Linked DNA regions of Homo sapiens. The protein of the gene in region 1 purifies or fractionates together with the protein of each later gene. This does not show direct contact. Each region holds a gene or a part of one and is shown on either strand. Other genes may lie near its edges.

Evidence for each region.
Region 2: the proteins of STPG1 (region 1) and MIPEP purify together in Homo sapiens (affinity purification with mass spectrometry; one large-scale study listed by BioGRID and IntAct). This does not show direct contact.

The regions. Positions count from the first base shown.
Region 1 is NC_000001.11:24,375,783-24,379,282, reverse strand, and holds part of STPG1 (O(6)-methylguanine-induced apoptosis 2), read left to right. Parts: intron 1-3,500. UniProt on the Homo sapiens protein: May positively contribute to the induction of apoptosis triggered by O(6)-methylguanine.
Region 2 is NC_000013.11:23,837,401-23,840,900, forward strand, and holds part of MIPEP (mitochondrial intermediate peptidase), read right to left. Parts: intron 2,327-3,500; coding exon 2,249-2,326; intron 357-2,248; coding exon 152-356; intron 1-151. UniProt on the Homo sapiens protein: Cleaves proteins, imported into the mitochondrion, to their mature size.

The DNA.
Region 1 (3,500 bases):
GAAAATAAACTTTCATATCAGAAAATAGGTGTTTTAACAGTCGTGCCCTGCTGTGCCAATTATGATCGCTTTGTATTCACTGACGCAGAATGGCATGGATGGTTAAGAGATGGACTCAGGAAGGTTTGGTTTAGCTCTCATCTGTTGCCACTTTCTAACTGTGCGGCCTTCGGCAAGTCCCTTAACCTTTCCAGGGCTTAGTTTACTGATCTGTAAAATGGTGATGTATGTTCACCTCATCGTGTTAATGCAAATATTAAATGAGATAATGTATGCTTCATGCCCAGGACAGCACCAGTCACACAAGGACCACACAATACATGGAGATTGGTAGGGCTGTCTTTGTTAGTACATGAAGGGTATTTACTTACCCTTAAATACAAGCAAGTAAGTAAGTCACAGCCCCCACTGTACAATGGAATCAATTCTACTTGCCCTACAGGGTTACCATAAGGCAACGAACGTGAAAGCACTCTGAAGTGCGCAAGATATGAATTGTACTTAAGACATTAATGTTATGCCATTTTCCAAACTATTTTGGTTTTATACATTTATTATACCATTTCCTTTTTTCCTTCATAATATTGATAATTAATAATTATTTTTCTGACTACAAAAATCCTGCCCACCTTCTATGATGGATTCAAGCTTTTTTTTGAGACGGAGTCTTGCTCTGTTGCCCAGGCTGGAGAGCAGTGGTGCAATCTGCAGGCTCCACCTCCTGGGTTCACACCATTCTCCTGCCTCAGCCTCCCAAGTTGCTGGGACTACAGGCACCCGCCACCACACCCGGCTAATTTTTTGTATTTTTAGTAGAGATGGGGTTTCACTGGGTTAGCCAGGATGGTCTCAATCTCCTGATCTCGTGATCCACCTGCCTCGGCCTCCCAAAGTGCTGGGATTACAGGCGGGAGCCACCGTGCCCGGCCTCATTTAAGATTTTCTAGTAGCCACATCTAAAAAGAAAAAGGGACAGATGAAGTTAATTTGAGTAATATAGTTTACCCAACAGATCCAAAATATTATCATTTCAACACTAATCAATATAAAAGTTATGAATTTTATATTTGAGGAAGACTATTTTCCTTGTAGTGAGTCTTTAAAATCCAGTATGTGTTTTATTCTTCCAGCACATTTTAATTTGGGCCAGCCACGTTTCCAGGGCCAATAGCCACATGCAACCTGTGGCTACTATACTGGGCAGTCCAACTCCAGGCAGTCTTCCCTCGGCATAATCAGAGCCTGAAAATGATGAGGAGGAGGAGGAGGAGGATGAAGCACTTCTCATGTACTAAGTGCTGGTCTAAGAGTTATGTATTAATCATATTTAATACTCACAAGTGAATCCATAAAGTGGATTATCTTGTTCCCAGTATAAAGAAGAGAAAGCTAAGGCTCAGAGAGGTGAAGGGACTTGCACAGTTACCCAGCTTGAAGGCATCATTTGCACTTCAGTGGGCACCAGTGGATGGCTGGGGTGGAAAGCTGGGGAATGATCAAAGTCACCTCATTCCAGCCCTGACAGGCTTCCCTCTGTGGATCCTGTTGCTCCTCTGTGCCAGGCTGGTGATACAGCTTAGATTCCAGTGGGGAATTCAGAAAAGAACAGGTAAACAAACAAAATAATTACAAACTGTGGTCAACTTTGAGGGACAGCTGGAGCTTGAGGGAGAATATGTGGGAGATATGGAGGTTGGCAGTACCAAGTCAGCCTTCTCTGACTTGGTGGTCAGAGAAGGCTCCGAGACTGAGACCCAAGGATTGAGGAAGAGCCAGGGTTGGAGAAAGAGCATGTGCCAAGGTCCTGGTATAGCAAGGAGCCCAGCCCACGAGGACCTTCAGGAAGGTTGAGTGGCTAGTGTAGGATGAGCAAGAGGAGAAGGGAGAAGGGGGCACCAGACAGACACCGGCCAATTCACACAGGGCCCTGAAGATCCCAGGAGGAAGTTCACATTTTGTTCTCTGGGTCCTAGGAAGCCCATGAGTGGGGCTGGAGGTATGGGGTGGTGTGATCTGATGCTTTTTTTTTAGATGGAGTCTTGCTCTGTCGCCCAGGCTGGAGTGCAGTGGCACGATCTTGGCTCACTGCAACCTCCGCCTCCCCAATTCAAGTAATTCTCCTGCCTCAGCTGGGATTACAGGCACATGCCACCATGCCCAACTAATTTTTGTATTTTTTTTTTTTTAGTAGAGATGGGGTTTCACCATGTTGGCCAGGCTTGTCTCAAACTCCTGACCTCGTAATCCATCCACCTCGGCCTCCCAAAGTGCTGGGATTACAGGCATGAGCCACAGCTTCCAGCCAATCTGACATATTTTTTAAAAAGTTCCTTCCAGCTGCTGTGTGGTGAATGGACTGCAGTGTGGGTTGGAGAGTGGGTTCTGGAAAACCAGCGAGGAGATTATTATGCTAACAGGAGAGATGGCAAGGTGTGATACAAGAAAGTGATCAGAAAGGGGCTTAGCCATTGCCCCTTTGTCAGTCCCAAGTGGGAACCAGGCTACTTGGGAGAAAAACACAGGCACCGACTGTCTGTGCGGATGCCCCTCTCTGCAGCCTCCCGGTTGTAGCTGAAGGATGCTGCCGTCAGTGTTTCATGCACCATTCTCCCCGAATCACTGTCTACTCCTTCACCCGGCTTCCTGTCTCCAATGCCCAGCACAGGTCCTGGGATGCAGTAAGCATCCAATCAATGTTTATGACATCAAAGGAATAACTTTCCAGTAGTATGCAGCTGTTAATCTAGAAAGGACCTCTTCCCAAGATAGAATTGTGTCCTTCTGCCAATAGATACATTTAGGCGCATGTTTTTTGTTCATTATTGTCTTAATATGACCCTGAAAATAATACACGCTCATCATAAAATATATTCAAGCCCTGTAGAAACCCATTAATTAGAAAGTGGAAGTCCCTTATAATTCTACTTCCCAAGGGAAACCACTGCATCAAAAACCAGGTGCAGGCCAGGCACAGTGGCTCACGCCTGTAATCCCAGCACTTTGGGAGGCCAAGGTGGACAGATCACCTGAGGTCAGGAGTTTGAGACCAGCCTGGCCAATATAGTGAAACCTCGCCTCTACTAAAAATACAAAAATAAGCCAGGCATGGTGGCACACACCTGTAATCCCAGCTACTCGGGAGGCTGAGGCAAGAGAATTGCTTGAACCTGGAAAGTGGAGGTTGCAGTGAGCCAAGATCACACTACTGCACTCCAGCCTAGGTGGCAGAGTGAGACCCCATCTCAAAACAAAACAAAAACCAGATGCAATTTCTTTCATATTCTCTCCTACCTCTGTCCCTCCACCAGTATTAGCATTATTCTGTACACAGCACACATGCATTTTCTTCTTAGATTTCTTTCCATGGCAATACAATAAATCTGCTTCAGTCTTTTTTAACCTGCTGAATATTTTCCTGGCCCCATGGGGAAATCTTCCAGCGACACACACTCAGCGTATACAAAAATGCTCCCTTTTTCAGTTGCTTTTCTGTCTGGGTG
Region 2 (3,500 bases), on another chromosome or scaffold:
ATGGGGAGGGCAGGATGAGGCAATCTGAGATAAAGACCACAGGACACGGTAAAATGATCACATTTTCCAAATAAAAAGCCCCTTTCCCAATTCAAAGAAAATGTATGTTTGTAAAGGACTGTAGTAAATAAAAGCCCTCCTCATGGCTCACCAGTGACGTGTTGGTAACGAGTACGTCCTAGCATTGAATGCATGGCATGTCCCATTTCATGGAAAAGATTTTCCATCATGCTAGGAGTTAGCAAAGTTGGAGAACTCCTTGAGGAACGGGGAAGATTCAGCATAAGAACTACAACTGGGAGTTGATAGTCTCCATCTTCCTTTAGTCTGCCTCCACGGATAGTGAAATGGCAATCCTTTAAGAATCAGAAAACATAAAAGGAAAAGAAAGTATTTGGTAATGTGAAGAGTAAAACAGTCTTAATGAATATAAAATTTCACCAAAAATGTGTGAGTGCAAACTTTAACTTAATTATATTCTTATTCTATCTATTTACATATATACACCTTTTCTTGACATTTTTTATTCTGCTAAAATTTTAATTTTTTAAAACATCAAGAACACATTCAGTTTCTATGGATTAACTCATTACTTTGGTCCCAAAACATGCATTGAAATGATGCTGTGCCAGAAGCTGGAAACAAAGTCAGCAAAGAACTTACGAAGGGACACTAACATTTATTCTGAGTCCCTACTATGTGTCAGATAATGAACTAGTAGGTACTTTCCATGTCTCTTGGCTATTTTTTTTTCTTTTTTTAAGATAGGGTCTTGCTCTGTTGCCCAGGCTGGAGTGCAGTGTTGTGATCGCAGTTCACTGCAGCCTGGACCTCCTGGGCTCAAGCCATCCTCCTGCTTTGGCCTACTGATTGGCTGGGACTACAGGTGTGCTCCACCACACCCAGCTAAATTTTTAGATTTTTTTTTGTACAGATGGAGTCTTACTATGTTGCCAGGGCTGGTCTTGAACTCCTGGACTGAAGTGATCTGCCAGCCTCAGCCTCCTAAAGTTCTGGGATTACAGGCATGAGCCACCGCGCCCAGCCTCTCTTGACTTTTATCACTTGAACGAGATGGGATCTAAACTAGTGTAAAGCAAGGGATCCGGAGCCAGAATAACTTACTCTGAAACAGGCACTACACTGAGACTCACATACACTGTATCACTTATTCTCCACAACAACCCTATGTAGCAGGTATCTCACTTTTCAGATGATAAAACTAAAACTAGTCTTAGGATTATTAAATAACATGTCCAAGGACACCTAGCTAGAACTGCCACACCTTGGATCTGAACCCAGGCTGACTATTAGGAGCCAGGGCTCCTAATCACTAAAGTTGAGTCTCCACCACCCACCCATTTAAGCAAAGAGGAAGAACACTGGCCTCAGAGTCTGGTGACCTGCACCCTGTTCCTACCTTTCACACCTACTAGACAAATCATCTCGGAAAATAATTTGCTTCTGCAAGCCTCATCTCTAAAATGCTTCCTTGTCAAATCCCACAGTGGCTGTCCAGAATTCATAAGCTCACATCTGTTAAAATCTGTGCTTTGGAAATTGTGAATCACTATTCAAACATAAGGTACATTATTTCTGTTATAACTTATAACCTAAACTCTTGACATTTCCCATCAAGCTACATGAAACTGCTAAAGCTGACTGGCTGTCAAAGTCGGCCAATGCTAAAGAAAAGGAGATGAGCTGCCTCAAGTCTTCCACATAAGGAGCTACTTGGTGGTTGGTAAGGTTTCCACATGGAGTATCTTCCGCAGTTTTAGAATAGGTTCATTGTCGAGTATGGAAAAGAGTTAAAAGTTGGGGATCTGCTCAGGATGTATGCCTTCAAGTCCTAGCACTTCTGGCCAAGTAGCTTAACCTCTATGGCTTCAGTTTCCTCATAATGTGAGTAACTAGTCAAAAGGGTGAGGCGAACATTAAAAGGCTGATGTGTATAACGGGCTCAGTGCACTGTTTGGCACAAATAAGGATTCATAAAATGTCAGTTGTCATTGTTACTATAATTAATACCATGACCCAGATAAAAGTGACAAATATAGACTGATGTAATTATTTCCATAAACTTTTTAATTTTAAAATTCTATCTTAATTTCAAATGTATATATTTGGTAACCATCATTAGTAACTTTTAAATGTCATGGAATTTAAAAAATGATACAAAGTTCACATCAATACAAATGAAATGCCGATCGGTTCTAGAGAGACCAGTTTATAAAGAAAGGATCACCTGATGTGGTTTGTCTGCTCGCTGAAAAAAATCACAGTAAATGTACCCCAACAATCCTTCAGATTCATGAACAACAGCCTAGAAAAAAAAATTTAAATTTGGTGGTAAATGAGGCCATCTGATTCTCTAAAATCCCTAACACAAGAATCTGTATATTAAACATCCATAGCCACACATATAGACATTTTAATTACATTCTACACCCCACATTATCTCGAGATAGATTCTCTTTTCCCCGCATCCTCTTCTGCTCCATCTCTTGAATGATTTTGGTTTTGGAATTCTGTGTCCAGGACAGGAAATCCTCCTCATGAGGGCCTTTTGTCCTGACTGCCTATCCTCTACAATACCTTTACTAACCACCCACAAGAGCTGGGAAGAAGTGCTGGCTGGACAATTTTAGGAGCAAATTATTTTTCCTTCAAATCCTGGAATGTCGTGATATACGCCCAAGCAAATTATAACCCTTGAATTTGAAAACACCACAATGCAGCTCCCAGCTTGAGTTAAAAATCAGCAATATTACTATCTATCCCCTCTCCAAGAGACATAGCTTATAGGAGAGACTCAATCACTACTCTCCATCTTGCCTTCTTTGTTCTTTCAGAATTTAATGATTCCATCAAAGAGAACCCCGATTTTGTGCTTTAAAACTACCTGCAAGTATATATTTATTGTTCATCAAACATCTGTTAAGCACCTACTTGGTGCCAGGAACTCTTCAAGACACTGAGGATACAGAAGTGAATGCAACTGACAACAGTGCTGGACCCCGGTGGAGTGCACATTCTGCAGTTCTGGGGAAACCCTTCATCACCCGCATTTTGTCCTCTCAGTCTCCTCTTATAAATTTTTCTTTTTATTATATCTCAGCATTTTATCAATCTCTATCTTTTTTGGAAGTTTGTAATACAGATAGTGAAGTAAATCAATGCAGTGATGAACGTCCTCCCACCCTGACTCTCCTTTCAATCCCACCACCACACCTACTCTCCACTCACAAGACGTGGCCGAGAGACAATGAGACTGTTTACATTTCTTAAAATATAGTGAAGAAAGCAGTGTGGTAAGCATGCTAGCAAAAATCAAACAACAAAACAATACAAAGCCTTAGTGACACACACAGGTCAACAAAGCCTCAAATCCTATGAGGAAAAATTTAAAATATTCATGCCTCATATAAAGTGGGCCTTCACAGGAGAAAGATGATTGCTAGGTTTGAAGTTATTATCAAAGAAGTTAAATAAATCAG